Linked DNA regions of Homo sapiens: region 1 is linked to region 2. The links come from fine-mapping of genetic effects on gene expression. A gene starts in region 2. The other region holds a variant in brackets. All regions are shown on one strand. Distances are from middle to middle.

The links. PIP is the estimated chance that this variant, and not a neighbour inherited with it, causes the effect. A credible set is the group of variants that fine-mapping cannot tell apart.
Region 1: its variant is the best candidate, but not a certain one, in a credible set for the expression of CSMD3 in testis (GTEx, PIP 0.64).

Annotation. Positions count from the first base shown.
Region 1 is chr8:113,056,403-113,068,863 of GRCh38, reverse strand. All of the region lies in intron 5 of CSMD3 (CUB and Sushi multiple domains 3), which reads left to right. Among named protein-coding and RNA genes, the nearest start is that of CSMD3, 370 kb to the left of the region's middle. The variant TA/A (reference allele first, on the strand shown) is at 6,832.
Region 2 is chr8:113,432,135-113,444,595 of GRCh38, reverse strand. CSMD3 (CUB and Sushi multiple domains 3) reads left to right here and starts at 7,657. Exons shown (of 71, transcript NM_198123.2): 1 at 7,657-7,919. The coding sequence starts at 7,742. LOC105375709 (a long non-coding RNA gene) reads right to left here and starts at 12,409. Exons shown (of 2, transcript XR_928544.3): 1 at 12,170-12,409; 2 at 11,466-12,055. RefSeq lists enhancers at 6,223-6,723, 6,736-6,785, 8,563-9,073, 11,003-11,506, 11,507-12,010 and 1 more.

The sequences.
Region 1 (12,461 bases), 380 kb after region 2:
CATCAACAGTCAAATAGAAGAAAAAATAGCAAGAACATCAACAGTGAAATAAAAGAAAAAAATAGCAAGAACATCAACACAAATAGAAGAAAAAATAGCAAGAACATCAACAGTCAAATAGAAAATAAATTATGCTATTTATTAACAATTGAGAAAGACCAGGTTGCTTTTAGGTATAATAGGGAGCTTTTCTGGTACAGAAGGCTTAGTTCTGGTCATCTAATAGGACCTCTTAATTTGTACTTCCGTAGTGTAAAATTGCTGTTGTGGAGAAGGTTGCCAGTTGACATTTCTAACCAGGTACACAAAGATGATTGTTGGCACAGTCCTAAGGGCTAGGTGTGTTTACCACAAAAGAATAGATAGGAAAGATATGAAAACTGGTTTGGAGACTTTAAATCATAGTTACTCTGCCCATCATAGAGAAATGTTCCAATAAATGGCTCTGGATCTGACCAATCACAGCAACATTTCTCTTGTGCAGGAGTCTCTAAAATTAGCATATTAATGTCCATCTCATTGGAATATAAGGTTACATGATGAAAAGCTCATTATGGTCCCAGTACGTTTTAGCTGTTATTATTTTCCTTATTTTCAATTGTCCAAATATTTTGCTTTTTGACATTTGGCTGTTTGTCATCGAGAATTCACAGTAGTATTCACTAAATATGCTTTATGACTAAAGATTATTATACTAAAAATGCACATGAAATTATTAACTTCACTCAAAAGTTGGTATTTTATACAGAACTCTTTTTATACAGCATTTTTCCACAGAAACAAAATTTCACATGAACAGTTTGTTTTAAAACATTGGAACACCTCACTGAACAATAATTAAAGTAATGAAATTTTATTCAAAGTACCTAAGTCAGTCCCTTGTAGTCAATTAGGTGTCCAGAGCAGTGCAATTATGTTTCAAACCACCAGGGCACATTTAAACCACTGAAGCAGAATGTTGCCCTGGTGATTTTAGGATAATGCTATGGGAGAGTTGCTCAGACCATTTATTATCTTCAAGTTAAAGAGCGATATTAACTCATTCATACCCTAAGCACACCATGCATTAACCACTGCTAGCACTCTTTTCTTGGTGCTGAACTTATAAGAAATAAAAAACATATGAGAAGTATTTTTAATATATTGGAAAAAACAAAATAAGTCACTATTTTTGAGTGTTACTTTCTGCTGTAAAATTTTCCGTCAACTTATAAATATTTTAGTGTCCAATTTGTCTGAACCTGTGCTAAGAATGCATTCAATTAAGGCATACTTGACATATTAAGTTGGTACAAAAGTTATTGCAGTTTTTGCTATTGTGTTCAATGGCAAAATTGTAATAATTTTTGCACCAACCTAATATTTCAAGCTTTACACTATATAAATTTTAGAACTTCACAAAGCTTAAGGACTGAGGCATTCATGAATGGATCCTAAATATCTATGCTGCAATTTCAGTCCATTCCGTACTAGTCTGCTCTCAGTAGGATTGATAATTATGAATAGTCTGAAGACATTTCATATGTCTAAGAAGTTTGTAATGGAATCAGTAATTTTTTTGCTTACACTAACTTCGATTCTTGCACTGTAGTATGTACTGTATTAGTCCATTCTCACATTGCTATAAAGAACTGAGACTGGACAATTTACAAAGAAAAGAGGAAGTCTGGATCTTAGTAGAATGTAAGTATAAAAGGGAATTTAAAATTTCCATTTCACCATTTTCCATAGCCCTTGTTTTCCCAAGGAAATTTTCAGAGAAAAAGAAGACAAAAAATATTGGAATTCTCTTTTTCTTCACTTGTCATTTCAAAAGGGAGCAAATATCAATCTTGAATTACCAGGAGGCTCTAAAAATGATTCTTCAGGTTTTAGTTCTTAATATTACTTAATCCAAATTAGGCTGTTTTCTTCCTTTAGAAATAAACAAAATGGCATCATTCCCACCCTACTCCTGATCTAATGTATTATGGAATAGCATATTAGACTTACAAAGCAATATTTTCTTAGTCCCATCCTATATGAGAATTTTAACCAATGATATCTGTTTTTTTTCTAGCTCTACTTTCTCTAGAGATAGTCCATGATGTTAGAGAACTTTTGCTAACAGATCTTTTTCTTATACTATAAATTTGCTTTGTAAATTAGAGTCATAAATGAGACCAGATTCTGATTTATCCCCCTTTATGATATGCATGATTGATATTTGAGAAGCTTGTTTTTTCAGATTTATAGCAGGAATACTAGCCCAAATGAGGTATACTGTATATTTTTCTCTGATGTATTGAGAGCTGGAATCTGGGACACAGTTAATTTAAAAGGCAGAAATTAAAAGCCACTGAAAAGAATTCTCTTATGCTAACTAAAATTTTCACTTACTGATTGGTGAAACAAATCTTTAGAATTATTCATCATTTAGAGGTAGTCGATCTAATCATTCTCATCATTTGTTTTCTTCTCTTTCTTTTTTTTTAACTGAAGTCCTCTACTTCCATACCTCACCCTCTCCTCTTCATACTCCATAACAAACTACAGATGAAGCCTCCACCTAATATTCAAAAACACTTTTTCTCTTTGTGCTCTACGTTAGAGTTCTAAAGTCCTCAGAACAATATACTGTACAAATTTAGACCTATTTTATCATTAATAATTAACCTACTAATCTATAGCACAATATACCAAACAATTTGTCTCGCTTTTTTGTCCTTTCTTTTTCTTTCTTTTTTTTTTTTTTCTTTTTCTTGGGTCTTTGACCTTGAGACAAGAGCAAGAATAAGGGTTTCCAAACTTTTTTATTGTGCACACCTCTCAGAAAAAAAAAAATTGAGCAGAGCATGCATTGCCATTTGTTTATTTATCACTGTATAAAGCATTCATATTTACATACCCAATATGGTATATAATATGGAGCAATATAATAAATAATATAAAATATAACTGTAATGTATTTGTATACTGTAGAACATACACCTTCATTAAAAGATACCAATACTAATATATCATGTACATTCTACATGTGATATAAAAACTATTGACTTGAAGTTTTGTGAACCTAATTAATAACTTCAGCTACTAATGCTGTGATGCCCATAACCTTCACTGACATCATAATGGAGGGTCTGAAGGAATGACATATGATAAAGACCAGATAATTTTTTAAAACATGAGGCTGTTTTTGCCAGGCACGGTGGCTCACGCCTGTAATCCCAGCACTTCGGGAGCACGAGGCGGGCGGATCACGAAGTCAGGAGATCGAGACCATCTTGGCTAACATGGTGAAACCCTGTCTCTACTAAAAATACAAAAAAAATTAGCCAGGCGTGGTGGTGGGCACCTGTAGTCCCAGCTACTCGGGAGGCTGAGGCAGGAGAATGGCGTGAACCCAGGAGGCGGAGCTGGCAGTGAACCGAGATCGCGCCACTGCACTCCATCCTGGGCGACAGAGCGAGACTCCGTCTGAAAAACAAACAAACAAACAAAAACATGAGGCTGTTTTATTCCCCATGCCTTGCCTCTTATTTGGACTTTAATCATCTGAAACAGCTTTTTCATGTACTTATAACTTTCATGTACTTAGAACTTAAAATAGCAAGGTACGTCTTCTCTAAACTAATATTTTGTTTTGTATTTTTTTGTCACAACCTAAGGCTGAAATCAACAAACAATTTATTCAGTTACTTATTTATTGCAAAATAATATAGGTTAGTACAATCCAAGCAAGCCCAAAGCACTGTATTTGATATACATTTATACCTAATTAGCTCATTTATAACTCCAGATTACCAACAATATTGTCAACTATATAGCTGTATATTTTCACTATTTTTGTAGATACAACAGAACACCACATAATTTAATTGTTCCATGCATACTTATTAAAAGTATCAATTGTTTTTCTTTAAAAGTATTCAAGCTAAATTTATCTTGGTGCTAATCTGTGACACATATTTTTGTCATATTCAGCAATCTTTTGTCAATATAATGGAGTTGATTCAGGATATCTTCTAGGAGATATTTTCAGAGACAGAATGGCTTCAGTGATGTACTGCTAAGCCCTGTCTTCCAAAATAAATAAAAGAAAAGAAAAGAAAAAGCCGTAATTTGTTATTTGTGGCATGTTTAATTTTATGATCAACCAAGCTACTAACCTGCTATCACTGAACATGGAGTTACAAAGAAATGAACAGAATCAGCTCTCTCAAGCTACCTGTTGGCTATAGCTCACCACTGGGTGGCCTTATCTTATTCTCCTATTAATTATCCTTTACTAATTTCCTCAATAGCTTAGTTTTATCCTGCTGTATTATTTTCGTTTTTGTTAAGAGTGTCAAATACATTTGGAGAGTGAAGTAGATCTTAAATAAATGAATTAATTTAAAAAGTCCTTTTAAAAAACCCCAAGTTTTGCATAATTTATTTATTTTTCTTATTGCCTCATGATTTGCTTGCTCTGTGAACATGTTAAATAAGTTATATATTAAACATAGAAAAGACAATATCTCTCTCTATATATTTTAATGAAATGGACAAAATGGGGCCAAATGGGTACTTACTAATTGTATTCATAAATACAGTTTTAATTTAATCTGTGAATTCAAGGATTTCTTAAGGTTACTACCTAAGGTGCTCAACAATGTTTGAGAATAAACACAAAGCAAATGGTTCATGTAAAACCACTGAAATGATTTTAAAATATACTGATTATAATAAGCTTCTGTCATTGTAACTATAATAAATAGTATAGTTTAAGCAATGAATTTTAGGCAAGTTTCTGTCATTGTAACTATAATAAATAGTATAGTTTAAGCAATGAATTTTAGGCGAGTCCTTTAATATATTATTAAAGGACTATTATTAATATACTAAAAGGTTTTCCTAAAATTCATTGCTTAGACCTTACTATTTATTATAGTCCTTTTAATATATTAAAGGAATTTTATTGTATTATAAAACTTAATAATACTGTATCACCTATTACTATCATCTATTTGCTGATATTAAAAATATTTGAATTCATTGTGAATTATGATTTGAAAATCATAATTCTGATATTACATTTACTGATATTTATTTTGCTTTAAATATCTGTAAACATAACTTACACCTGAAGTAGATAGGATATCTTCAATTTGACAAACTAAATAGAGTTATGTTTGGTTTGTAGGCACATGTTTCCAACAAATAGAGAGGTAAAAATGCAGTAACATGGATCAGTAGTTTGCAGACTGATTTATTAAGAACAGCGGGTAACTAACAACTAAACTAACAAGATGGTATCCCTGAACAGTGTGCTTATTTTCAGGTCAGAGTTTTAATTTTCAAAGGAAATCAAGTGTATAAGTAGCATGCTTGACATGAATCTTGTCACTATTTCATTAGCAAATTAAATATAAATCTGAAAATGCAGTAATTAAAGTAGATATTAAAGATTGTGCATGCTATTTTTAGTATAAAATGTAGTATCTGTTTTAAATCAATACAGTTTCTAAATAAATATCCATGAAGTGAGGATACCTTTGGATAAATAACTTGACACAGCAATGACAATATTAGTTAAATAGAAAGTACTATGAAAGAGAGAAAAATGTTCTGTTACTGTAATGCAAACTTAAAAGGCATCAGGTAACCTGAATTCTAATCTCAATTCTATCACTGTGAATGGTAAAGTTTTGTTTTGCTTTTTTTTTTTACTTTTTATTTTTCTAGCTGGATGCTTTACCAGTAAAATGAAGGAAAACTTCAAATGTAAAATATTTGTAGGGAATGTGATTGAAACATTTGAATTTTTTTTTTCTTTCTGGAAACATTTAAAAAATGTGTATGTAAACAGTCAAAATATGATGCAAATTAACTCTTACTTATAAGTTAGCCTTTAACAAAACTATAATCAGTAATCAATATTATATAATAAAGCATAACTCCTTTTATATTTACATATGTAAGTCACCTATAAAAGCGGAAAATACTTTTGTGTATTTTCAGATTAATTAAATGATAATATATATATAGCTTTGCAAAACAAATTTCCAGACCATAGGTTATACCATACATACTATTAAATAGCTTAAATAATGGCTCAATATAATATGCAGCTTAGAAAGAGACAATACAAATGTGTCTGGCTTTTCCTCAACAGTTACACCTAGATTTTTGTCAAACAAAAGGGAGCATTTGAATATAAAGTAAATATGTAATATTTTAATGATATGGTTCATTTGACCAGCCTTTTCATTTTCATGATACAGGGAAGAATTGGAAATAAGCAGTAGTAATAGGCCTATTCAACTGCTTTTTAATACCTACTGCTTCATTACACATTTATATATTAGTAATTATTGTAGAAACCAACAATTTCAGTTGTGGAAATAATCAGACAAAATACAAGGTGCTTTTCATCAATCCTCTATTTAATCAACCAACTGGACTAACAAATACGTTTCATTTCTTTGATAAAATATACTGAACTGTTTCTATAGTGCAATAAGCTATTTTGTTTAGCAGACTACCACATATATTGTCTGAATAATTTTGTTCCGAGCAGTTCATATTCATGCTTATTTAGAATCAATTGTATTTAGTACAAACTTCTTAGGCTTATTGGGATACTTTTAGTGTGTATATATGTAACTTGATGAAATGTCAATAAATAAACAATGAACTTTTTTTGTACAAAAACCAATTTGAATGCTTAGAGAAAACTTAAGGATGAGTTACTAAAAATTTGCCTGAATTAGGTGTGGACAAGATATCTTTAAAAATAGGAAGCCATTAATATAAAATAATTAAAAGTAGAAAATAATAGAAAAGTAATAGAATTAACAATAGACAAAT[TA/A]AGAGTTTTCAAACTAAGATTGCTTAACTGGTGTCTCTAATTTTTACTCAAGTTTTTTCAACTTGGAATGATAAGAAACTATGTATCATGAATTATGTACAAAGAAGACATAATGAAATAATTACAATTATTAGATGTTTAAAGAAAAGTTCTTGAGTCTATATCATAAGATTAGTGAATGGGCTATGCATCTACACATCTTAAGATAAAATACAATATTTAAGTTATGTATTTATTCCTTTACAGAATTTTTGATATCCTGCTTTAACTTTTTTTTTATTAACCTATGATTTGTATCCCAACAACATTAAATAAAAATGCTTCTACCTTAAAATATGCATATAATTCTAGGGATATAAATTCTAGAGTTATAGCAATCAAGTATCAAAAATATATGGGTACCTAAACCATCTGTAAATCAAAACAGTTTAATGACAAAAGTCTATTTGAAATATGTGAACAGTGAATTCCATGTATACCTTTTACTAATCAATTCAAAAACACATGAAAACATCAGGCCATTTTGTTTATTTGTTTTTGTTTTCTCTCAGCCTCATAATGCCTTTCCTTTACTCAGTTATTCAGGCCAGGCTCCTAGTTCCTCATAGGAGCTTAACTTCCTGACTCACATATCTACTCTGAATTATAATTAAACTCTTGGATGAATCTAGTATTCATGTGGACAATAATTCCTCTGAAACCCTAGTAAAGTCTATTTGATACTAAAGCTGATGTTCTTTTCCTATATAGCAGAACCCTATAATGTGTAGCTACAATTTTCAGGGACTGCATACCTTCCAAAACACAAGAGTGATGTGCATGCAATTCCAAACAACACAATAGATCAGAGAAATATGGGACCTTAAAAGATCTGAGAAGGAGTGGAAAGAGATAACAGGGTTATGGCCCCACAGAAAAGACAAGAGGTGGGTATGTTCCAGCTGCTCTGAGAAGCTAAGAAGGATGACAAAAAATCTCCAGGGGGTTTGTGAGATTAGTAATCTGACTTATCTCAATAGAGTGCAGCTACTTAAAGTCAGATCACATTGAGAAGATAATTGTATAGAAAAGAAATAGAGATGATATGTAAAGACTATTTTTCAAGGGTATTATTGGTGTTGGCAATTACAGGTATTGTTATTCTTCTTGATATAGCAGATGGAGACATTTCATTTAACATTTCCTAAACCTCAGCTGATTTGCGATGCAGGGTAGAGAGTTATGCTTTTCTCCAATTTTTTAACTGAGTTTTGGCTGGTGCTGTGTAGAAACATGCACAGCTTCTGCAATATCTTTTGAGACAACCCCTTTGCTTTTTTGGCTACCTTTTTTAAAGAAAATCCAAATGCATAATATGAACTTAATATTTTTTGTAAAATAGAGTATGTCTTATTAAATACATGAATACCATAGCTTAAAAGCAAAAATTTTAAATAAGCAACAAATATAAAGGAGAAGTATTACTATATTTGTGTCTATAGTTAATTGTGTTTTGTTGCCAGTGAAGTAACCTCAGGTTTATGGTATATAGTTCTAAGGACCCACAGCTCCTCAGTTCCACATAAACCTTGACATTAAAACAAGGCCCTACACTATTCACAATAGCAAAGACTTGGAACCAACCCAGATGTCCAACAATGATAGACTGGATTAAGAAAATGTGGCACATATACACCATGGAATACTATGCAGCCATAAAAAATGATGAGTTCATATCCTTTGTAGGGACATGGATGAAATTGGAAACCATCATTCTCAGTAAACTATCGCAAGAACAAAAAACCAAACACCGCATATTCTCACTCATAGGTGGGAATTGAACAATGAGATCACATGGACACAGGAAGGGGAATATCACACTCTGGGGACTGTGGTGGGGTCGGGGGAGGGGGGAGAGGATAGCATTGGGAGATATACCTAATGCTAGATGACACATTAGTGGGTGCAGCGCACCAGCATGGCACATGTATACATATGTAACTAACCTGCACAATGTGCACATGTACCCTAAAACTTAGAGTATAATAAAAAAAAAATAAATAAATAAAAATAAAACAAGGCCCTAAAGTCTTCAGTCCTACTGCTAGGTTAATTGCTTCTAATTAATTTGCATATCATATTAAAAGAAAAAAAATTACCCTTGCCTATATCTTCTGCTAACTCTCTGGCTGCTTATTTTTCCTCCTGCAGTTTAAACGGAAAATTCCCAGGGCTGTTTCCAATGAACACCCAGAAGCAAAAGTAGCAGAACCTTCTCTAAATCTCTGTCTTCCTTTCTTTGTTCCCAATAGATCAAACTTTCTTAGAAATAGCTGATATCTTTAAAGTGATTCATAGTTCTGAAACTTAAGCTAATTAGCAAATGACATCTGCATCTTACATACAACCATAACCTCAGATCTTTTTCAACATTTAAGCCACTTTTCAAATTTATGAAGAAATATGTCAATTTTAAATATGTTTTAAATAGTAGTTTCCTTTTAGTTAATAAGTAGTTTGTGAAAATATTAGCATGGAAAATTTGTATCTGATTCATGTGCCAGCATTTATTGTTCTGCATCAAATGCAGAACAATATAAAAGATAGGAGGGAAAATGAGTGGATTGTAAACTAGGGAAGTAAGATGCAACAATTTCAGGGCAGCTGTTATCAAGGTACTGTGAAAGGATCATTCCAAATGAAGGCCAAGGGTACCAGAGACAAATCTTTTCTTACTTTTCCATTTTCCAGGTGCTAGATTAGTGTCTCAAAGCACCAGTATAATAAGCTTTGTTTCATGCAGTGATGGGAATGTATGTTTTGGGTTATATAATCTAACTTACACAAAATAAAATCATCCAAATTGCTTTGAGATGCCTACAGGGATGAACATTTGTATGCGTTTTTACTGTCAGTTTCTAAACTGTTTAGATTTTTAACCATCACAAATGTCTTTGGGGAATCATGAGTAGGCTTTCTGCTATGTATAATAAAACATTAATGTTACTTTATGTAATTTATTGAATAAATTTGTTAATTTCCAGATGGTTATAGTACCACTTACCTTTTGCCATGCTAGCTATAGTGTGATGTGTTAGCTATTAATCAAGAATAATTATAGTTAATTTGTTGAAGTCTATATTATCTCCAGTATACTTCTTTTTACTGTATTTGATTGTGTGGGTTTTTTTAGTAGGTGGCATTGAATATTTTAATTAAAAACTAACTATAGAGTAAAAAATAAAATTTTGGCTCTTTCAGCACTTTAAAATAAGTGAAGCCATAAGAAAATGTGGAGTTTACAGGTATCGCTAGGGAAGCTTCTTCTTTAGATTTATGAAATAGTTTTAATTAAAGTAGAAACAGTACCTAAGGGAACATTTAAAATAAAAATTGCAATATAAGTACCCCCATGTTACTTTTTCATCAACTTAGCATCTTTAAGTGTATTATTTTTATTATGAATGTTTCTAATATAAAAATTGGAATGCTAATGAATAAATTGACTTATTCCATGTCATGTATCAATACCAGACAAAACTAAACTTAAGGGCTGTATTTCCAACATTTTTCTGTACTATCCTACATCATAGGATATTTTCCCTTGTTTTGAAAGTTTATTAAAAAAACCCAGCAAACTCAATAAGTTAGGTAAAAAGCAATACAAACATAATATTCAAACTTTATCTAAAGTATGCATATTTTATTTAACTTTAGCTGGGAATATTTAAAATCAGGTCATGTTCTACTTCAACCCACAATACTTAATGTTTCAAACTGGCTAACCCATGAAATAAAATATATAACTAATTAAAAACAATAAAAAGAAATAAAGTTAGATTATAATTCTCAAAAGCTTTCTTGATAGGGTAATAAAATTTATTTGAAAGAAGCTGTGTACCAACTGATGTAAATATTCTATGGAATTTTGATATTTCAATTAAAATATTTCCATATAAACATATTTTCTTATTTTATGAAGAACAGCATATTCAGTTTTAAAAATCCTCCCTTTCAGATCATTAAAATATTCCACTTACTAAGTAAAAATAGCTAATTTTTCTTTAGTGATTCTATAATAGATTAAACAAAATGTTTGCATAATTTCTATTTTAGTCTTTTATTTAGGACACGTATTACAATGTAGTTCAATACCATAGTTATCTACCAAGGTGAGCACAATTCTATTAATATTTTTTTCATATCCTACATATCTATTTTCATATCCTACATATCTATTCATCTCATTGCTTCTAAAATTAGTAATTATTTTGAAGCCATCTGATATATAAAAGTAGAATAGAATTTTTAAAAAAGAAAGCTTTTCATTTTATGTATAGAATATGGGAGTGTTGGTTCTTGTCGTATGTAAATATTTTATATCTATCAATATTACTAATAACAAAATTTTCTTATGATTATTTCAAATGAAATCATTGAGTGCTAATTTTGAAATTTGTGTTCTGGATAATGGTGAGTGATAATAATATGGCCAAAATTATAATTTCATAAATATTTATTATGAGTTGTTCTAAATTTATGTTCTGGTAAATTTTTGGCTCTAATGAGATTCACACTGGTGTCCAAAGACCCCTGATAGAGATACATTCTTTTGACTGAAAAAGAAGAGTTAAATTTTCTTTTCTTAAAGATAAATTGATACTAAACATTCTTTTCAATTACATTTTCAGAAGCTTTTCTAAATTAGACTCTGTATTCTTCCAAAGTTCTAAGATAGATTGGTGAATAATATAAGCAAGGTCTCTGGTTGCATGACTCTTACATTCTAAGGCCAGGGCTTCTGAAATTATTGAAAAATAAATAAGTAAAATAGTTCCAAAAACTGAAAACATTATGAGTGTTAAAATGGCATAGTGAACTGCAGTAGGGAGGGCCTATTTTGGGTTAGACATTGTAGTACAGCCATTTGAGGAATAAGCTTTTGAGTAGATAACTGAAAAATTAGCTATCCAAAGAGCCATTTTGAGGAAAGGCATTCCAAGCTTAGCAAACAGCATGTGCAAAGGCCTGGTGGTGGCAAACAGCTTCCCAAATTTAAAGATTAAGAAATGTCAGTGTGACTAGAAAAGTAGTAAATGTAAAATTACTTCATGGGAAAGGAGATAAGAGAGTAAACGAAGACCAGAATTTCCAGGCTATGTAAAGCCCAATAAAAAGTCAAAATTTCATTCCAAGTTTGAGAAGTTAAGCATAGCAGTGACACATAGGTTATAAAAAATGCTTTGGCTATTGGCTGAAGACCAATTTGTAGAGTGCTCAATAGAATCAGAAGAGACTATTTCCAGGTCTAGGTGAGACCATGGGGACTTTCCGTATATGATAGTAACAACAAAGAAAGTAAAACAAAATCAGATGCATTTTGGAAGCAGAAGAGGATTTGCAAATGGCTGGCCTTCTGAGAGTGAAGAGAACAGATAATTCAAAGATGACTCTTGAATGTTCAACCAATTGGTGTGTAATGCTGCCATTCCATGTGATATTAAAGAATAGAAGAAGGATATGCTTGTAGAGAAAACATCAAAAGTTCCAGTTTGGACATACTGAGTTTGAGATACATATTAGAAACCCAGGTGAAAATGTTAAGTAGATAATTTGAATATATTGTTTAGCAATGAAAACACTTAAACAT
Region 2 (12,461 bases):
CTTTTTATAAACCACTGCATAAAAATTCCAAACAAATTGATTTGCTTATTCAATGAAAAAATTCATTGATTGAGTTTTTTAAAAATGTAATACTGAAGGTTTATGTGAATTGACCAATCATTATGGTCTATGTACTGAAAAAGAAAAAAGAAAAGAAAAGAAGGAAAGAAAGAAAAAAAAAGAAAGAAAGAAAGAAAGAAAGAAAGAAAGAAAGAAAGAAACAAACAAAGAAAGAAACAAAGAAAGAAACAAAGAAAGAGGGAAGGAAGGAAAGGGAAGTGGAGGGGAGGGGGTGGGAGCAGAGGAGGGGAGGGGAGGGGTGAGGAGGGGAGGGGAGGGGTGGGGAGGGGAGGGGAGGGGTGGGGAGGGGAGGGGAGGGAAGGGAAGGGAAGGGAAGGGAAGGGAAGGGAAGGGAAGGGAAGGGAAGGGAAGGGGATTGGCAAGGTCTGTCATTGTTTCCCAATCTCCACATCTCCCTGGCTGCTCTTAGCTTTCTAGCCTCATCTATCATTCTTTTTTAAAAGTATAACCGCCCAATTGACTAAATCTTAAATGTGTACATAGCTCTCCTAATTTTATTCACAATATTTCTAGAAAACAACCTTTTCTTCAAGATTTTTCCTGTTAAGCATTCTTAGATGATTCTACAATGACTCAAATGTTTATCATTTCCATGTAGTTTTCTCCAATTCCCTAGCTATAAATAATTTTCCACCATCTTGGTATTTTACAAGCATGTCTCAAAAAGTGGTTATACTTTACTGACATTCACTCTTGTTACTTGAGAATATATTCTATGCTTTCTATTACATTGAAAGTTTCTTGATGGTAGAGTAACATGTATTTCTTGTTTTTGTTTCCTTGCAACAGGAGCTCAAAATGATTTCTTAAATAAATGAAAGAATACTCAGATGAAAATAATACCTGCTACACAAATAGTAAAGATGAAATTGATCCCTGTCCAGATGGGACACATATTTGTACTTGCAATCCAAATTGGATTATGTGTAGCCAAACTAAAATCAGCTGCATTGATTTTCTTTCCTTTGGTGGCCAAAATGATCATTTTAAGTCAACGTCACTGTTATCGTCCTATCTGAAAAAAGGATGCTTATTTTGTTTGGCTTCCTGTGTTCTTATCCTAGGAAATATTTCAACATTTATTAATTTTAAGATAAATTTTAAAAAATGAAATAACAGTGATCATTTGGGAAGCTTAAAAATTAGATCAAATTATACAGTAATAAATATGAATAGTCAGTGCTTTTAACCAAGTACAATACACATGTATGTGAATAAAAATCTTTAAATTTGTGAAGCATCCAACCAAATTATTTTCAATGGTTCCTTTCATTCAAGAGTTTGTAAACATTTAGGAAAATTAACATCACAATTAAAAGTTACAAAAAGTTAGTGAATTCTGCTTTATCACCAGCAAAGCAGTCTACTATGAGTGAAAGGAGATTGCAAGCACAGGTGAAATGTTCTTGCCTTCTACCTGTGGGCTGTGTTTTGCTATGTTGGGGCTCTGGGATTATGATCAAATATAATTTAAGAACTAAGCTTGCATGTTTCTAGAATTGACTTTCAGTTGTAAATTGTTTATTGCAGATATTTAGATTTCTCAGTTAACAAAATTACAAAAAACTGATTCTTAAGTGGATAAATGAAACAAAATAGAAAGAAGGTCCTACACATACTACCTAATTTAGAATGGACTAAAAATCTACAGAATAAAAAGTATTAATGGTTTTATTGTGCATATTTAAAAATATGCATTTATCTAAAAAATTTTTCATTAATTTTAAAGATTAGCAGAGAATATGTAGATAATAAAGACAGTACCAAATTGTTAAAAGATAATAATGAACTAATTGGATGGATATGAATAACCTCTGGATATGAAATCAAATATATACTACATTTTGATAATAATCTTGATATATTTTATATCTTATAAAATCAACATTTTTGATTTATATTCTCTAAGTATTCATGGGGTTTGTTTTGTTTTGTTTTGTTTTGAGACGGGATCTCACTCTGTTGCTCAGATCTCGGCTCACCACCACATCTGCCTCCAGGTTCAAGCGATTCTCCTGCCTCAGCCTCCAGAGTAGCTGGGATTTCAAGTGTGTGCCACCACACCGGGTAATTTTCGTATTTTTAGTATAGATGGGGTTTCACCGTGTTGGCCAGGCTAGTCTTGAATTCCTGACCTCAGGTGATCTGCCTGCCTCGGCCTCCCAATGTATTGGGATTACAGGCGTGAGCCACTGCACTTGGCTATTTATGTATTCTTAAGGACATTTGAAACTGATACTACATAACTATACAGTGTATGTGAGTTTAAAGAATGATGAAAAAAAGATCTGCTATACCAGGAATTGAGGTTTATTCAGATAATGTCAATGACACAACTTTATTACTGATGAAACACAGAGACCCGAATTATCTTGATTATTTAGCAAAGCTACCTTTTGCTTAACTCTTTATTTTTGTTCTTCTATGCAAAGACAGGTTACTTAATATCAGTCCCAGGTGAGCAAGAGAGTGAAACACACTCAAGACAAACAGAGAAATCTTTAAAGAATCTCTCTATTCTTCTTATCTGCTCTCTTTCAGGGTAATTACCCAAATGCCCCCCAATTATTTACCATGATTCCCTCCTTTCAGGAAACAGAGCTCATATATGGTTCATCTTAAACTATTTAATATATGTAATTTTAAATTTTCCATGTTTAAGAATGAAGCAGTTGAGAAAATTTGAAAGTGGGCAAAATTATTATATTTGTGGCTCACATAAAAATAAGTGTTTTTTGTAGTCAGTTAATACAGTTCGTCTGTATGGATAGAGCAATAGATTCTGTGTCCAGTTTTAAGGCTTTTCTGTTCTCTTGTAATACAACGTTACTACCTTTATTTGACATATAAACTTCAGTCTGATGTTCTTAATGTTGTTATAAGCTTAAAAACATTGAAATGCCTGTTAAGCTTCAGTATTAATGAAATTGCAAGAGGAGTCAGGACATAAGAAAAATGAATTCCTAGGAAAGCACACTTAGGACTCTTCCAACAGGCCTGTCTCCACCTCTCTACAATGGTTCCTGATTTACAACAGGAAGGACAGATCCTTCTATCGGCTTGATAATTTATCTTCTTAAATATTGCTGTTTTAAAGAAAATTACTTTAACATGAATACTAGGTCTCTTACTTTCCTTTTTCCTCAACAAATAAGGACATTTATAAATCAAGGTAATGCATATACTTAAATTAGAATCCCCTCATTATTCTAGATTCAACATTTAAATTCAAATATTTTATTTCGCAGGAGTTGGAGAGATCAGACATGACAGATCCAAGAATGAGCATTTATTGAAAAATGAGAAAAATGAATTCCTCTTTTCCCCCTACTCTCCTGGCAGTGAATTATATGTAAAAACTGCAAATGAGCAGGAAAATGTCTGCTTGGTTATTTGTAATCATTAACATTTTATCTTACTCTAACTAGTTTTTTCCCACAGACCCACAGATTTGATTTTCAGCCTTTTAATTAAATACATGTGAGAATGTGTGTGTGTGTGTGTGTGTGTGTGTCTGTGTGTCTGTGTGTGTGTCTACAGTCAATGAACATTTAGTTTTAATAGGCAGGAACATTTCTATAAAAAAATTACTTCACTTGAGCAAGAATCCCCATGTAAACCTTTATATCCATTATATAAATTAAAAAAAAACACTAAGTTTATAGCTGTCAAAAGTATATGCTTCTTTCCAAAGTTAAAGGTAACGCACTTCCCACATTTTTGTGTTGTGTTTTCTCAGTGTACTCATTTTGTTTTGATTATTTTGTTCATTTATCTTTGATATTGCTCCTGTGGTGACAAAACATAGTAAATACATGTTGAAGGGGCTAGTCTAATACTGGGCAATTTTTGGAGAGGGGCTTATTTTATCTTTTTTAGTGCAATTCAGCCCTGTTTTAAGATCAAAGTTAATTGTATTCCATAGGTATTTGGGGAAGGAACTGGAAAGGAATGGAAATCTAGTACTTCTAGTTTAAAGAGCTTGTGCATTTCTGATTTAACCTCTTTTTAAAAGCTCTTAAGGGTACTTAATCATTGTGTCTTGATGATCCTTGCCAAGTCACGTTTTACCACGACCTATATGTAGGAAGATCAATAGGCTGCAAGAAGTAAATAAAAATTTTTAAAAAGAGGAGGAATTTTCGTAACTGATAAGTATAAAAAGGACAAAAGTTTTTTATTTATATGTGTACATATATATTCTAAAATTTTATCACTTATAAACTATAAATTATTGCTTTTCTATAATTATGTATCATGTGTACTGTAAAAATGATTCATTCTTTTTGTTACTAGACTATTTCAAAACAAGCATCTGTAGGAGCTAGCATAAAATATAGGACATTAGGGAAGCATATTAACTCTGAAATCAGGTGCCATAGGTTCATACTTCTTACATGTGTTACTTCAGGCAAGGCAAGACAGTTAACTTCTATGTGTATCAATTTTTTTTTCATCTGTAAAACTAGGATAGTTGTTATGCTTGTCTCAGAAAGCTGTAGAGCTTGTCTCAGAAAGTAGTGAGGATTGAATAATATATCTTATGTAAACATAGCACAATGCCTAATGTACAATAAGCACCTGAAGTTTGCTATTATGTTAGCTATTTTTCCATAATCTCTTTCTAATAGTCTCACACAAATGAATGTATAGCTGTGTTGCTTTCCTACAGATTAGCAACAAGAGATAATTTCTTTCTCCCAAATGTAGACACTATGTTCCCTCCCCCGCCCCCACCCCTTCTGGAGAAACTAAAGGATTCTCACCCAGGATTGTGGCTGAAAATTTTGTGTTTCTGGAATACCTTTGGAAATCTTTCCTTAAAGAGGATACTGTTCATCAAGAAAGACTAGTGAGATCTAGCCCTAAACACATTGGACTAAACACCAAAGTTCCTGATAGTGACTTTGGATAAACCTCTTTAGCTCCTCATGCCTTAACTTTTTCCGTCTGTGAAATATTATTTTCCATCCTGTCTCAGAAGCTGGAAGACACAGGTGAAAATGGTTTGTGATTTATTGTGAGCTGTAGAAACTAGATATTATAGTATTGTTCAATATATTATGAGATTCCAGATAAATCTTTTAACAATCTCACATGAAATGATAGGCAGGATTCATTTAGGGAAAGATAATTGGATTACAGGATTAGCCATGTGTTTGAAAATAAATATCAGAAATTGGTATCTTACTAGTAATCTTTATGGTCTTTTAATCAAAATTTACTTACTTTGTGCACAATAATTACTGTTAAAATACCCTGTCTTTTGAGAAAGGGTTTTTTGCGGGGGGGTTTGTTTGTTTGCTTTTTTGGCATGAAGTCCTCCTGTCTGGATGTATAGCCATGTGTTATGTGTTCAAATAGATTGCATAAAACCCAATATTTTTGTTTCTTTTAATAAGAAGTAAATTCAGTTGAGGTGACTAACCTCTGCACACTTGGTAAGGAGGATTTTTGCTGAGCATCCTCATTAAGTCCAAGGGCCTGTTTACATCTCTAACTGGTTGTCCAGCCCAGCAAAGGCAACAGCAGCAACACCACACGCTGACATCTTGACTGAAATCAATGCCAGAGCAGCTGCCAAGGTGGCTTAGCAGGCTAATGTCGTTTTCCATGTTGATCCTCCCAGTCTCTGTCTAGTCCCTACCTTGTTGCCCACTCCCCTTCGAAACCTGCATATGCAGACAATGAAAGAGAGCACTGAAAAGAAGGGACAATGTTCTGCCTGAGGGCTCTTAAAGTATCTCTCTGAATTTAATGAGGTCAGCTGGGCGTCTACAGCTTTTACCTTTTGCTACAGCTCCCTACCCAGGACAGAAATCCCTCTCTAACACACAAACACACACAGGCGTGCACACGCATATGTACTGCAAAAATACACTTGGGAAAACACCTACGCATGGCAAATCACTCTTTGTATCTTTCATAAACACGCACACTTACCTCTCACTACAGCGCGTTTATGCTCTCGCGCGCGCAGACACACACACACACACACACACACACACACGAACTGGGAGAATCACAGGCCCACACACAATGCCACGTACCCCGAGAGATCAGAAGCCTTCCTACGCCTGCAGATTGAACTCACTCGCCACTCAAACCTATGGACACTCGCAGTGTGCCCACTTCCCAGAGCGGAACTCCTTCCAGATTCTAACGCCTTCCTCTGCTGAGCGGGCAGCTCCAACGCGAGCCAAGGGACAAAGCTGGCCAGGGTAATGCTGTGGTGCACGGGACCAAACCCATTATTTGTGCACAGTGCAGGGAGCTGCAAACTCAAGTTGGGCAGTCCTCTAGACTAAGCCTTGTTGATAGACGCTCACGCCCATGATAGCCTGAGGCAGTTAAATGGAGCCACACGCAACAGCAATATCCTGTTTCAGAACTAGCGCTGTGGCACTCCCCACTGCTGAGAGGGGACCAGATTCCCGAAAAGGTCAGATCACCAATCAGTTGCCTAATCTAAGGAACTTGTTCATTGAAAGATTTGGGCCAGGACCGTGGTCGAAAAAAATCAAGGAGCACGACATACTGGTCCCGGGGACACAGCTCCCCTGACACCAAGGGATGGCAAAAACAGGGTCCCTTATACATGCGAAGGAAGAACGGGCGGCTCGGAGACGGCCAGTAGATGGCGCAAGAACTCTTCCCTTGTGCAATCTTAACCCTTGCGTGGTGCATGGGGGAAGCAGATCCAGATGTATAGATACATACATTTTTCGTTTTGAAAGAAACCTCCTATTTACATATTTGGTACCGATTCAGAATTAAGACAAATGGGTTTGTTCTAGATAACTACCACAGATAAAGTAGTTTAACTGCGGCACACACAAACTGAAAAGGGGGTTGGGAGGATGAAAGGGAGAACTATTTGAGGAAACGACATTGACTTCCCTCCCCACCCCACCCCCGCCCAGGCCACGGATGAAATCCGTTTCCCGAATCATAAAAACCCGGTGAAGGGTTTACACGTAGTTATTTGAGTATGTAAATACATGTGTTCAAATACATTCTTTTCCGTGTGAAGGCAGAATTTATTGAGAAAATTCTCTGTGATTTCCTTTTTCAATTAAATCACAGGATAATAAATGGGAGAAGCCTGCCTGAAATATACTGCAACTACAGTAGTAACACATGTCCCATTATAACGACGTGGGCATCGATGGAGCCCGATTCATTATCGTCACGGTTTCCCCAAAAGCAACACAGATCCTCCGATTAAAATATTCCTTTGACATGCTTCTGTATTCGCAGCCTGCAACGGAGAGCTCACTAACATTATTTCTTGGGCTGCTTTTACAGGCAGAATTGATCTATTCGGGGAAAAAAAGCAAGCCCCTTAATTTCAAATATTGTGTGGAGTTTATCAGAGAGCAGAGGTGGGCTTTAAGAGGCTCACTAGTGGTTTCTGGTGGTTGCTATAACGAGCCAGAATTGGGGTAGATTTTGGTGGAGGGGAAAAAACGCACAAGAAAAGACAGAATCCAGAGTAGCGGAGACTTTGTGCCCCCGTTGGAGAGATGGTTGAGTCCTCGTCAAGGTTGCTGTGGTATCCCAGAAACACCATTCACTCCGAGCTGTGACCGCGCACCAACAACAGCAACAACTCCACTGCGCCGGGCTGAGGAGCAGGAATTAGGAGCTCGCGAATAATATGAAAGGGATCCGCAAAGGGGAAAGCCGAGCAAAGGAATCCAAACCCTGGGAGCCTGGCAAGCGAAGATGCGCTAAATGTGGCCGCCTAGACTTCATCCTGATGAAGAAAATGGGGATTAAAAGTGGATTTACGTTTTGGAACCTCGTCTTTTTATTGACGGTGTCTTGTGTGAAAGGTAGGTCTGCTTTGGGGGTCCCCTCCGCTTTGGATGGAGGTGGGCTGACTTGTAGATGGAGAGAGGCTGGCAGCTTACTTTGCAATTTGCACCGATAAAATAATCTGATAATACTAAAGGAGTTGATTCACAGCTCGTTCTCCCCCCCTCAGATAGGAAATGCATTTTGCTTGCCAGATTTGGCGTTCAATGCGGTGATTGAGCTTGTGCTCAATAAATATTCTTGCAGTATGCTCAAACGAATACGTGAGTTGGTTAGTATAGCCTCTAACTAGTGGATATCCAGGCAGAATTCCTCTGCAAGACTTTTCTTAGTGGTGAGGATTACCTTGATTTCTTGTCAGATCACTAGGGCTTGAGGCTTTGGGTGGAATATATATATTAAAGACGCTGGTCTAAATGCTTTTTAACCCTTTCAGGGAAGAAAGTTATCGACGTGCTAGGAATGTGTTGATTTTAAATGCATTAGGGCACAGGGATCTTCCAAGCACTGCCACATCAACATGAATGTCTGCATGCATATGTATGTAAATTGGGCTTCTATGCAATGTTAAATGTAGGGGAGCTTCCCTAGGACCTGTGGTAGAGGTTTGGCAAAAAATGAGGCTTTCGAAGGGTCTGAAATGCCATGAAGTGTAAAGAACCACCTTAAGGGATGAATGAGGTAGGAGGAAAGTCATTAGCTGACGACCAAAAGAAAATCCCCAGCAAGTCTCAGCGTTCAGACAGGTAGAGTGAGTGTCACATGCACAGATAGGGGAGGGGGTAGGTGGGATGTAAAAATGTATTCCCAAGCAGGAAGGCAAGGGACAGTCAGGATCATGGGAAAAAGAGCTGTCCTTAGGGAGAAAATAGATCCATAGCTCTCTTCCACAACTTCTCCGGCACCCTGCTGCCCATTAATTGCTGCAAAGAATACTCAGGAGGTGTTTATGACTCATGCCATCATTTTTTGAACAATCACCTCTCCATACTCATGGCAGCTCGAATAGACGCTATGGATGCCGCTTTCAGTGAAGCTAGTTTCAAATCCCGGGTGTCTGTGTGTCGCGGGGGGGCGGGGGATCGCGGGAAAGGGGGTGCTGTTTTGGCCCAGGCGCGCCAGGGCTGTCAACACAAACTGGACGCTTCTTCCTTTGTAAAGGAGTGCCTCTCTGAACTGCAATCGGGCCGCGTCTCTATGAAACAGTTTATTGTCCAGCTTGCAGCTGGCTGTCCCCCCACGGAAGGCAGCTCATTTGCATTCAGTGGAAATGATAATTCATGTTTTGGGAGGAGGGAGCTGGAGAGGTTACCTTTCCCTCTACTATAACCAATGATGGGTGGCATGTCTAGAATTTTAATTTACATCCCAAAATGCCAGGAAGTCAGTCGCCCCGGTCTCTGTGGCAGCAACTGCCTTGTAATCCCAACCTGCTCCTTGAAGCTTGATTTTTCTTTTCTCTCTGGGGCCTCAGAGCAGCTCTGAGCCGAAAAGCTTGTCCTAAGTGGCACAACTACACTGCCAAATGTACAAAGCACGGCTCAGGTTGCTTACAAGGTTTCTTTGTCGCTGGCTCGACGGGTGAGGAGCCACACATTTATGCTTAGTTCGCCTGCCACTGGGAGTTGGTGGTTAATGGATGGCCCTGGGGCTGCCTGCTAGACGCGCGCTTCGCGTGGGGGAGGCGCGAATAGCCAGCAGCAGCCCTGGCAGAAAAATGTAAGGGTGGCTCCTGTGAGAAGATGACCAGGGTTTAAGTGCGAGTTTTCATGTGATACCTGTTGAGCCAAAACACATTCGGGGGCAGATGAGGGGGAGGGAAGTCTCCGAAGCGGGGCGAGCATTACAGCCTGACTAACGCTGATCCGCGCCGCCTGCAATTAGAGCCCCGGCTGCCCGCACCTACCGTATTTTCCGAATGAGATGCGCCGATAGAAAGGAAAGGCGCGTTAATTTACTTTGGACTGATATAATCGGTTTAGCTTTGGAGATATTGAGAAGGAAGAGTATGTCATAGCCTTCTTTGATCCTGTGCAAAATCAATATTCTACAGACTATACGTAAAAAACATTTTTTTTCAATGTCAATAAAGTTATTGTCACTCATCGGGCACTTGGAAGGCATCTCCTACATTTTACGACTTGGAATACTGTCCCCAAATTCTGAGAAATTTGCATAGGTTTTATGTTTTAGACCTGCTGTCAATCTCCGAATGATGCCAATTTTGATAGTTGCTTTTTACTCTCCCTTTCCTCATTTTATTTTAATTTCACCTGTCTCAAGGCTTTCCTAAAGCCAAGATTGATGCAATGCCTTAAACATTGTTTGCCCCAATGTCTATGCTCGCTTTTGTCTTCTACACTTTCTTCTGGAATGTGAGGTCCATGAAAAACCTCAGACTGGGGAGCCGTTGTAAGGATTTTGCAGGTTCTAATCTAGACTAGCGTGAGGGTCCAGGAAGTCCGAGGCAGGCAGTTTTCCACGTGAACAGCTCTAGCCACGAGAATTACACCATCTGCCTACAGTTTTCATCCCTCCACCATCTCACCTTTGCGTTCAACAGCAATGACAAAGAGGCTTAGTGGGAGGAAACGCCTCGGAGTGTAAGATAAAGTGGTCTTAGGTAGGCCTGAACCACTCGGGTGGGGCTGAAAAGGAAAACAACCTTTCCTTGGCATTTCATTTCCACTGTCATGTGAAATAAAAGGCTGTGGAGAGCACCAAACTGAGGCGTGGGACAGGGCAGGTGCTGCCTAGACTTGATCCATGCCTATTTCAAACTGAACTCCCCTCCCCCGCACCCCCCACACAGGTACACACGCACACACACACACAGGCAGAGGTTTCTGAAATGCCTCCAGCTGCAGCGTGTCTGTTTAGGTCTCACCCAGATAGAAACTGTGAATCTCCAAGTCGTGCTTAAGCGTCCCGCCCATGTAAAGAGACATCCATGGGATGTTTTCCCACGCTGCTTGTCAGTGGATCCCAGGGGAACACACACCGTGCAGCGAAGGTACCGCGAAGGCACAGATCTCTGGGTAGGCAGCAGGTGGGAGACCGGGTGCGGCGTCGCGCACCCCACGCCAGAGCGTCTTTCCAGGGATTCTCGCCAGAGCGACTTCGCGAAGGATCCACGTTTCTGCGTGCTCTGAGACTCCAAGGAGATACTACTCCTGCCACAGAGGTCTTTTGGAAAAGTGGAAATCGCATCCTCTCCCGCAGTTAGTTGCTACTGGAGAGGGGCGCGGGTGTCTTATGAGGGGGAAGAGCTGCCAGAGGCACTCATTAGCACCTTTTACAGACGCCCGCCCAGGTGGCCATGTCCGGAGCTTTCAGCCCCGCGTGTGTCCCGGGGACTGACACCCACAGTCCTCGCCCATAAGGCGACAGTCTTTCCCAACACATCAGGAAAATATCTGTCTCAGCTTGAGAGAGCTTTACAAAGGGGGCTGAGGGAAGGGAAATCAATGTCTTTTCAAAATAATAACAGCAAACAAAAACCCACCTAGACAAAACCATTATCAAAACCCTTCCCCCAACACTAGCAAGACTGAGAAACCCACTGAAAGGTAACCTTTGTATTTGAGTCAGGGCCCCCTCCTGCTGTAGTTTGGACAGGCGCCCCTCCCTTACATCTATTTCCTGTGGGAATACTCATTAATTTCTTCAAGAAGATCAGCCTCCCTGAATTTTCATGGACAACCCGAAGTTGAAACTGGGTGGCTGACTTGGCTGTTGATGTGCGTGTGTGCGTGTGTGCTGCTGGGAGGAGGACACATGAATTGACACGGAGAAACCTTTAGGAGTCTCCGAGGGTGGGTGTGAGTGTGTCCTAGGCGGAAACGCCTGGCGGGTAACAGCGCTTTAATGTTCCCAGGACTCCAGATGGCCAGTGGCGCTGCGACCACTGCTGTCACGATGAAGTAGAAGTGCGGAGGAAGCTCCCTTTCTCCAGGCGGACCGCAGCGCTGTCCTCACTCAAATAACTTATCTAAGACGCACTCGGGGAGTTCGGAAAGCACATTGGGGAAACAACGAGTGGGGATTGTGGCTCCTCTGCAACGTCCCCGTCCCCCAGATCCGTTCAACGACGACGGAAAGGCCAGCAGGAGGGCAGCCCCCGGCTCAAGTGCTGCAAGGGCTTAGTTAGACTCTGAGGGAGAGAGCAGAAGAAATTAAACAGCATAGTGCCATCTGAGTAGCCAAAGTGGTCTTCTCCCAGCCCCGCTGGAGTGACCAGCTAAGGGGCTGACACAGGGGCACGCACAGGGATTGCTGCGCATTGCAGAATAATAATGAAGGAGGACAACCAAAGGAAGAAAGATCGGCTCAGGCATGAGGCTGGTTCTCTTCTCCCTGAATGCGGTCTTGTCTTTGGGGAGGCTTTGCACCACCGAGTTGCTAAGTTAACCCAATTTACCGGACTGACAGGGCTTGAACGGTTACCAGAATTCGGAGCTGAACTTCACTGGACAGTTAGCTTGTTGAAAGCGCTCTGAAATGTCCTTTTGCAGCACCGTACTTTCCGGAATCATCTGGTTGGGGAGGAGGCGGGTGCT